Linked DNA regions of Homo sapiens: region 2 is linked to region 1. The links come from fine-mapping of genetic effects on gene expression. A gene starts in region 1. The other region holds a variant in brackets. All regions are shown on one strand. Distances are from middle to middle. Region 1 holds the start of EREG (epiregulin). Region 2 overlaps LOC105377276 (a long non-coding RNA gene).

Region 1 (2,919 bases):
GTGCAGTGGCGCGATCTCGACTCACTGCAAGCTCCGCCTCCCGGGTTCACGCCATTCTCCTGCCTCAGCCTCCCGTGTAGCTGGGACTACAGGCGCGCGCCACCATGCCCGGCTAATTTTTGTATTTTTAGTAGAGACGGGGTTTCACTGTGTTATCCAGGATGGTCTCGATCTCCTGACCTCGTGATCCGCTCGTCTCGGCCTCCCAAAGTGCTGGGATTACAGGCGTGAGCCACCGCGCCCGGCCGAAGTATTTGTTTCTAACAAGAGCATTCTGGACATTAAAGGGCCTTAGAGTATGAGAGAAAAAAGCCAGAAAAAAAAAAGGAATAGTAATAATAATTTTTTAAAAAGTAGAAATAAAAAGGTAAGGAGTTAACATCCATTAGATTCCATTTTCTATTCAAATATGTATATTTACATACAGTACTGCTGAATTGACTCACAGTTCTTAGGTCCTATAGAGGAGTGCAGTGAAAAGGAAGACAATTTACACAGTACAGAGCTGAACATAGGACTTACAAACAAAAAAAAAGTCAAGGAATACAAAGTAGCTTTCCCAGGTGTAAAGTACCGGGTCTAGAATTCTATGAGGCTAGGGAGAAGATAAACGACAAAAGCTATAAGAGATCAGAATGAAAAGAGATCCACAAGCCTAAGAAGCCCAGGCCCTTGAGGAGAACCATGAATTTGAGCAGGATTTCACTAATTCCTTTAAAAAGTAGCCATTGCCTCAAAGTACGACTCCATCAGCATAGGCAGGAAAGTGGGAGTGAGGAAAGGCTTAGAGTTTTCCAGCCTGGCTGGGGTCAGACAATTTGCCTGGGGAAATAGTGGGAGCTGAGGTTGAAAAGACCGATTGGCTTCACGTTTGTGGCAGGCCTTGTCCAAAAAGCAATAGGAAGTCGTTGAAAGGTTTTGTGCAGGGGAGCGACAGGATTAAGGCACTACTTAGTAGGAAGTCATATCAAAAGCAGCAACCTGACAAATGGCAAATACGACAGAAGGAAAAAAAATAACAGGAATTTTCTTCACAATGACTCGACTTTGAGGTAATAAATGCCTGAGCCACATTGGAAGCAGGGGTCTCAGAAGGAAGGCGCAGATGGGAAAGGCTTTTCTGGGCGGTGGCGTTTCAATGCAAGGAGGGCGCTTGAATCACTGACAGACTTCAAGTTAAGGGAGTTTTCGTGGCTGAGGTTAGTAAGTCACACGCACAGCTCTCCAAAGGCATGTATGGGGAACGCCAGCCTTGGCTAAAAGACTGATTCAAGTTATGTCCGTCACCCTGAGCAACCAAAACCACCCACTACAGGGCAGGTGACCCCACAAAGCAAACCAAGCCATCTGGTCCACGCTCCCCACCTCCCGGAGGGAGATGGAAAAGTTTCGGGAGTAGTCCCCGGCCAATCGGAAAGACATTTTTTCATTCCTCAACCACTACTCTCAGGTGCTCCAGGGAGGGAGGATGACTTCCTGACGGTCCTCCTGCCGCTCCTCCCTCGGGCCAATTATGAAACTCTGGGCACTCTTGACCTCACCCCGTTAGGGCCCGGGAGGGGCTCCCTAGTATAAAGTTCGCAGCACCAGACAGTTGAGCTCACTTGCCTGATATTTCCAGTGTCAGAGGGACACAGCCAACGTGGGGTCCCTTCTAGGCTGACAGCCGCTCTCCAGCCACTGCCGCGAGCCCGTCTGCTCCCGCCCTGCCCGTGCACTCTCCGCAGCCGCCCTCCGCCAAGCCCCAGCGCCCGCTCCCATCGCCGATGACCGCGGGGAGGAGGATGGAGATGCTCTGTGCCGGCAGGGTCCCTGCGCTGCTGCTCTGCCTGGGTAAGTTCTCCCCCTCTGGCTTCCGGCCGCCCCAAAGAGGAGACAAATAAGGAAGGCTCCTGTGCATTTGTCATTCGACAAGTACGGAGTTGTCTCCAGGTTCAAGTGTGCTCTATTTAAAATTACGTCTTGTTTTGTGAGTCTGTCTTCCCCTATGGTGGGACTGGGGTGGGGGGGACTGGGGATCGATGTTAAAATGCTTTTTATTGGTGAATTAATTATTGGCATATATGTTATGCATGGATTGAAATATCTCCTTATTAAACAAAATAAAAAGTTGTTGAAAAAGCTTTTTTTTTTTTTTTGAAAAGTTGCCAGTCCTAGAAATCTAAAGGCCTGGAACGCACTGTTAACATTTCATGTCTTGTTCCTTTTTGTTGGAGAGTGGGGAATAGAAACTAGCGTAAGAAATTTTTTGGAGGGGGGAAAAAGCTTTTCTCCTCTGTCTTGCGCTCAGTTTTCTAAAACCTAGCCTGGTTTAGCTTTCCCGGAGGAGCTGGTATGCGCCAGTGCCAGTTGGCTGAGCTCCAGACACAAGAGAAATAAAACACTGGTCGAGGGTATCTGGAGCAGAAGGGCCCTGGGCAGGTCCTGGCGCTCCCCACCGCCCTTCGCCCCTACACCTGCTGCTTGCGTTTTTCCCTGCAGCCTCCCAAGCAGCCTCTGGAGCAAGCGTTCTGCACTTGCTGCTAATTGCACTCCATAGCCTGTGATCGCTGAGGGTATTTAAATGCCAGTCTTCCTATTTGAGATGATTTAGTTCAAGGGGAAAAATTTTCTAAATAGCCTTTCTGTTAAAAAAAAATTACTTCTTTCCAATTCCTTAAACTTCAGTTTAAGGAATTTGAAAGAGTTTGAAGTCGTATATGAATATCTTAATAAAAAAATAAAAGTTACCACCAGTCTCATATTCTCCCTGGAGTTGGAATGAGGCTGATTCCCCAGACACTCTAACTCTACCTGTGAAGGATGTGACTGTTAAATTATTATTTTGGCACACCTTATCTCAGGGGTTGAGAGACCTAATGAAATGCATACTATGCATAATTGAAACTTACAAGTCTAAGTCCAGGAACACAAGTGGAA
Region 2 (2,919 bases), 29 kb before region 1:
GGAGGCGTGGAAAAAGCACCATTTGACTGGCTAAAATGCGCTGAGGGTATTCTCACTCTGGTCTTGGACGCTATCCAGAACTGTCTGCTGGGTTTTCAGGCTTCAGGCTGTCTTTGGCTTGAAGGTCGGCTTTCACCGGGGACCTGTCCCTATCTGCCTAGGAATCTGTCTGCCTCCTTTTGCTATCAATCCCTCCTCTGAAGAGGTACATCTAACTGCTGTTAGGATACAAACAGTAACCGCTCTTAACTGCTTCATGCTAACAGGGTGCACTGTTTTGGGAAAACGGCAGTCAGATCTCTCAGAGGCCTATCAAAGTGTTTCCCGGGTAATGGGACCAGGAAATGGGACCCATTGCCCGTGGCTCCATTTGCATGACCATTTGGAGTTTGATGGTCTCTAGGTGAGAATAAACAAATTTTACAAGGAGGTTAAATATGCGTGGACCAAATATGTGTAGTATACAAAGAGGAGCTAAAAGGAAAATCTCTATTGCCAACGATAACAGAAATAAGAAGTAAAATAGACTAATCATTCTGAAAACAATGTTGTGGCCACAGATATTTCACCCCAGTGAAGGAAATTAAATCTTGTATGGGGGAAGGCAATTAAACTTTAGAAGAGAGATAGCTGTTTAGGAGAGTAGATAATCCCAGGGACATTCAGTAATAAGGAGTCTTGGCAAAGATGCCTTATGGTGAGGAACAGAACAAAGGCGAGTACAGCAAGCATAGGTGAGATTATAAAGAGGATATCCATTGAAGGTTAATTATTGACACTTAAGTTTTGTTTCTTCACACTGTTGCTTTGGGTGCTCTTCTGGGTCAACAGAGGTAATTTCATCAGTTTCCCAGACTTTACTCGAGTATAATTAATCCAAGAATCTATTCCAGTGAACTTTACTGATGTAGGAGTAGAAAGAATTACAGTTGAAGGCCCCTCCCAATCTAGGCCACAGAGAGAGAAAAGGAAAGAAGAGCCTTTACCAGTACTAGGTCTCCTGGGTTGAATAGAGGTGGTTCTACTTCACGGGATTGGTCCTCCGACAGTTGTTTCAGTTCCTATTGGAAATGGGCCAAAGAAGTTACATGTCTAATCAAATCAGGGGTTTGTTGGTTTAGCAAGAAACCACTGGTGAGAAAAGGCCATCTATACATCGTTTTGAAGGAACTTAAACCCAGCTT[T/C]GAAAGCTGTTTCTAACACATACTAGTGCCATGGAAAGAAGAGTAATCCAGGGGGAGATGAATCTCTTTAGACAGTTTTCTGAGGTGCCTTTTGATAATATCATTTGTCTTTTCTACGATTCCTGAGCATTGTGGTCTCCAAGCACAATGAAAATGATATTGCATGCCTAGTGCCTTTGAGACCTCCTAGGTGACAGCTGCTTTGAACAAGGGGCTGTCATACCATACTGGAAACATTAGTTTTGGGCTTTTTTAACCTAATATTATGTATTTGTAGATTTTTCAGTGCCAGTGTATTCAAGGCTGTGTCATTTATTCCAGAGTTGTAGAGTACTGCCTTGTTTGATGCACCATGTTGATTAACCAGTATTTAGTTTATGGATATTAACATTGCCTCAAGTCTCCTGTCAGAACAAATAAGACAATTCCTACTATTCTTACTATTACAATCAGAAAGATATTTCAGTAAGATGGCTGAAAAAAATTTATATATACAATTTAATGGCATTCCTATATAGAATCAATAACCAATTAGAATATAAAATGGAAAACAGTAATCACAGAATGATTTTTAATATCTTTCAATAAATTTAATAAGAAATGTGTAAGAGCCCTATGAACAAAATGTTAAAATGCTATTATGGGAGATAAAAGAGCATTTGAATCTATTGGAAAATATACCCACTCTTGCATAGAAACACTCAGCATCATGATAATGTAAATTCTCTCTAAGGAAAGCCTTGAGATTTTATACAACATTAACAAAACAACACCTGGTCAATTTGTGAAACAGACTGGCTGCATCAATAAAGCAAAACAGAATCAAAAGATAAGAAGCAATAGAGTAGAGTCTTAACACTAAGATAACATTACAGATCAGTGCATAAGAACATAGATCATTCCATAAATGATGTTGAGAAATTGAGATAGACATATAAAAAATAAGCTGCTTACTTACTCTTTGCACTAAAACAAATTTTAGATGAATCAAGTATTTAAACATAAAAATGAAGCTATGAAAGTACTAGAGAAGGCAAGGGAATTTTTTTTATAATATTTAAGTGAAAGCCTTCTTGAGTGTGGACAAGGAAACAGAAATTGTAAAATAAAAGACAAATAAATTCAACCACACAACACGTTAGAGGTGTCAAAAAAGTATCATAAGAAAATCAAAGTCCAAACAAAATACTGGCAAGACATCCCTAAAGCAAAGGACCAATTTTCTTTATATAAATGATGCTTTACTTCTGTTTAATGGTGTAGCCCTCGGGTTGATAAAGAAATGGAAACATTATCACATTTTAAATATAAGAAGCAATACATCTTTGAGTCAGCAACCTTGGTTCTAGGAACTTATCCTTATAAAATATGCTTTCATATCTTCAACATGATACACATAGTCGGCTGGACATGGTGGCTCATGCCTATAATCCCAGCACTTTGGGAGGCCAAGGCAAGAGGATCACTCGACCCCAGGAGTTTGAGAACAGCTTGGCCAACATGGTGAAACTCCATCTCTACTAAAAATACAAAAAATTAGCCAGGCGTGGTGGTGCATGCCTCTAATCCCAGCTACTCAGGTGGCTGAGGCAGGAGAATCTCTTGAGTCCAAGAGGTGGAGGTTGCACCAAGCCAAGATTGTGCCACTGCACTCACAGCCTGGGCAACAGAGCAAGACTGTTTCAGAAAAAAGAAAGGAATAATAGTCTTACTTTCCTCCTAAGGGGTTGTAAAG

The links. PIP is the estimated chance that this variant, and not a neighbour inherited with it, causes the effect. A credible set is the group of variants that fine-mapping cannot tell apart.
Region 2: its variant is the best candidate, but not a certain one, in a credible set for the expression of EREG in whole blood (INTERVAL, PIP 0.84).

What each region holds. Positions count from the first base shown.
Region 1 is chr4:74,363,543-74,366,461 of GRCh38, forward strand. It overlaps EREG (epiregulin), which reads left to right and starts at 1,603. Exons shown (of 5, transcript NM_001432.3): 1 at 1,603-1,833. The coding sequence starts at 1,767. LOC105377276 (a long non-coding RNA gene) reads right to left here and starts at 1,799. Exons shown (of 3, transcript NR_188415.1): 1 at 1,609-1,799.
Region 2 is chr4:74,334,772-74,337,690 of GRCh38, forward strand. The region is part of intron 1 of LOC105377276 (a long non-coding RNA gene); the gene reads right to left. Among named protein-coding and RNA genes, the nearest start is that of EPGN, 28 kb to the left of the region's middle. The variant T/C (reference allele first, on the strand shown) is at 1,185.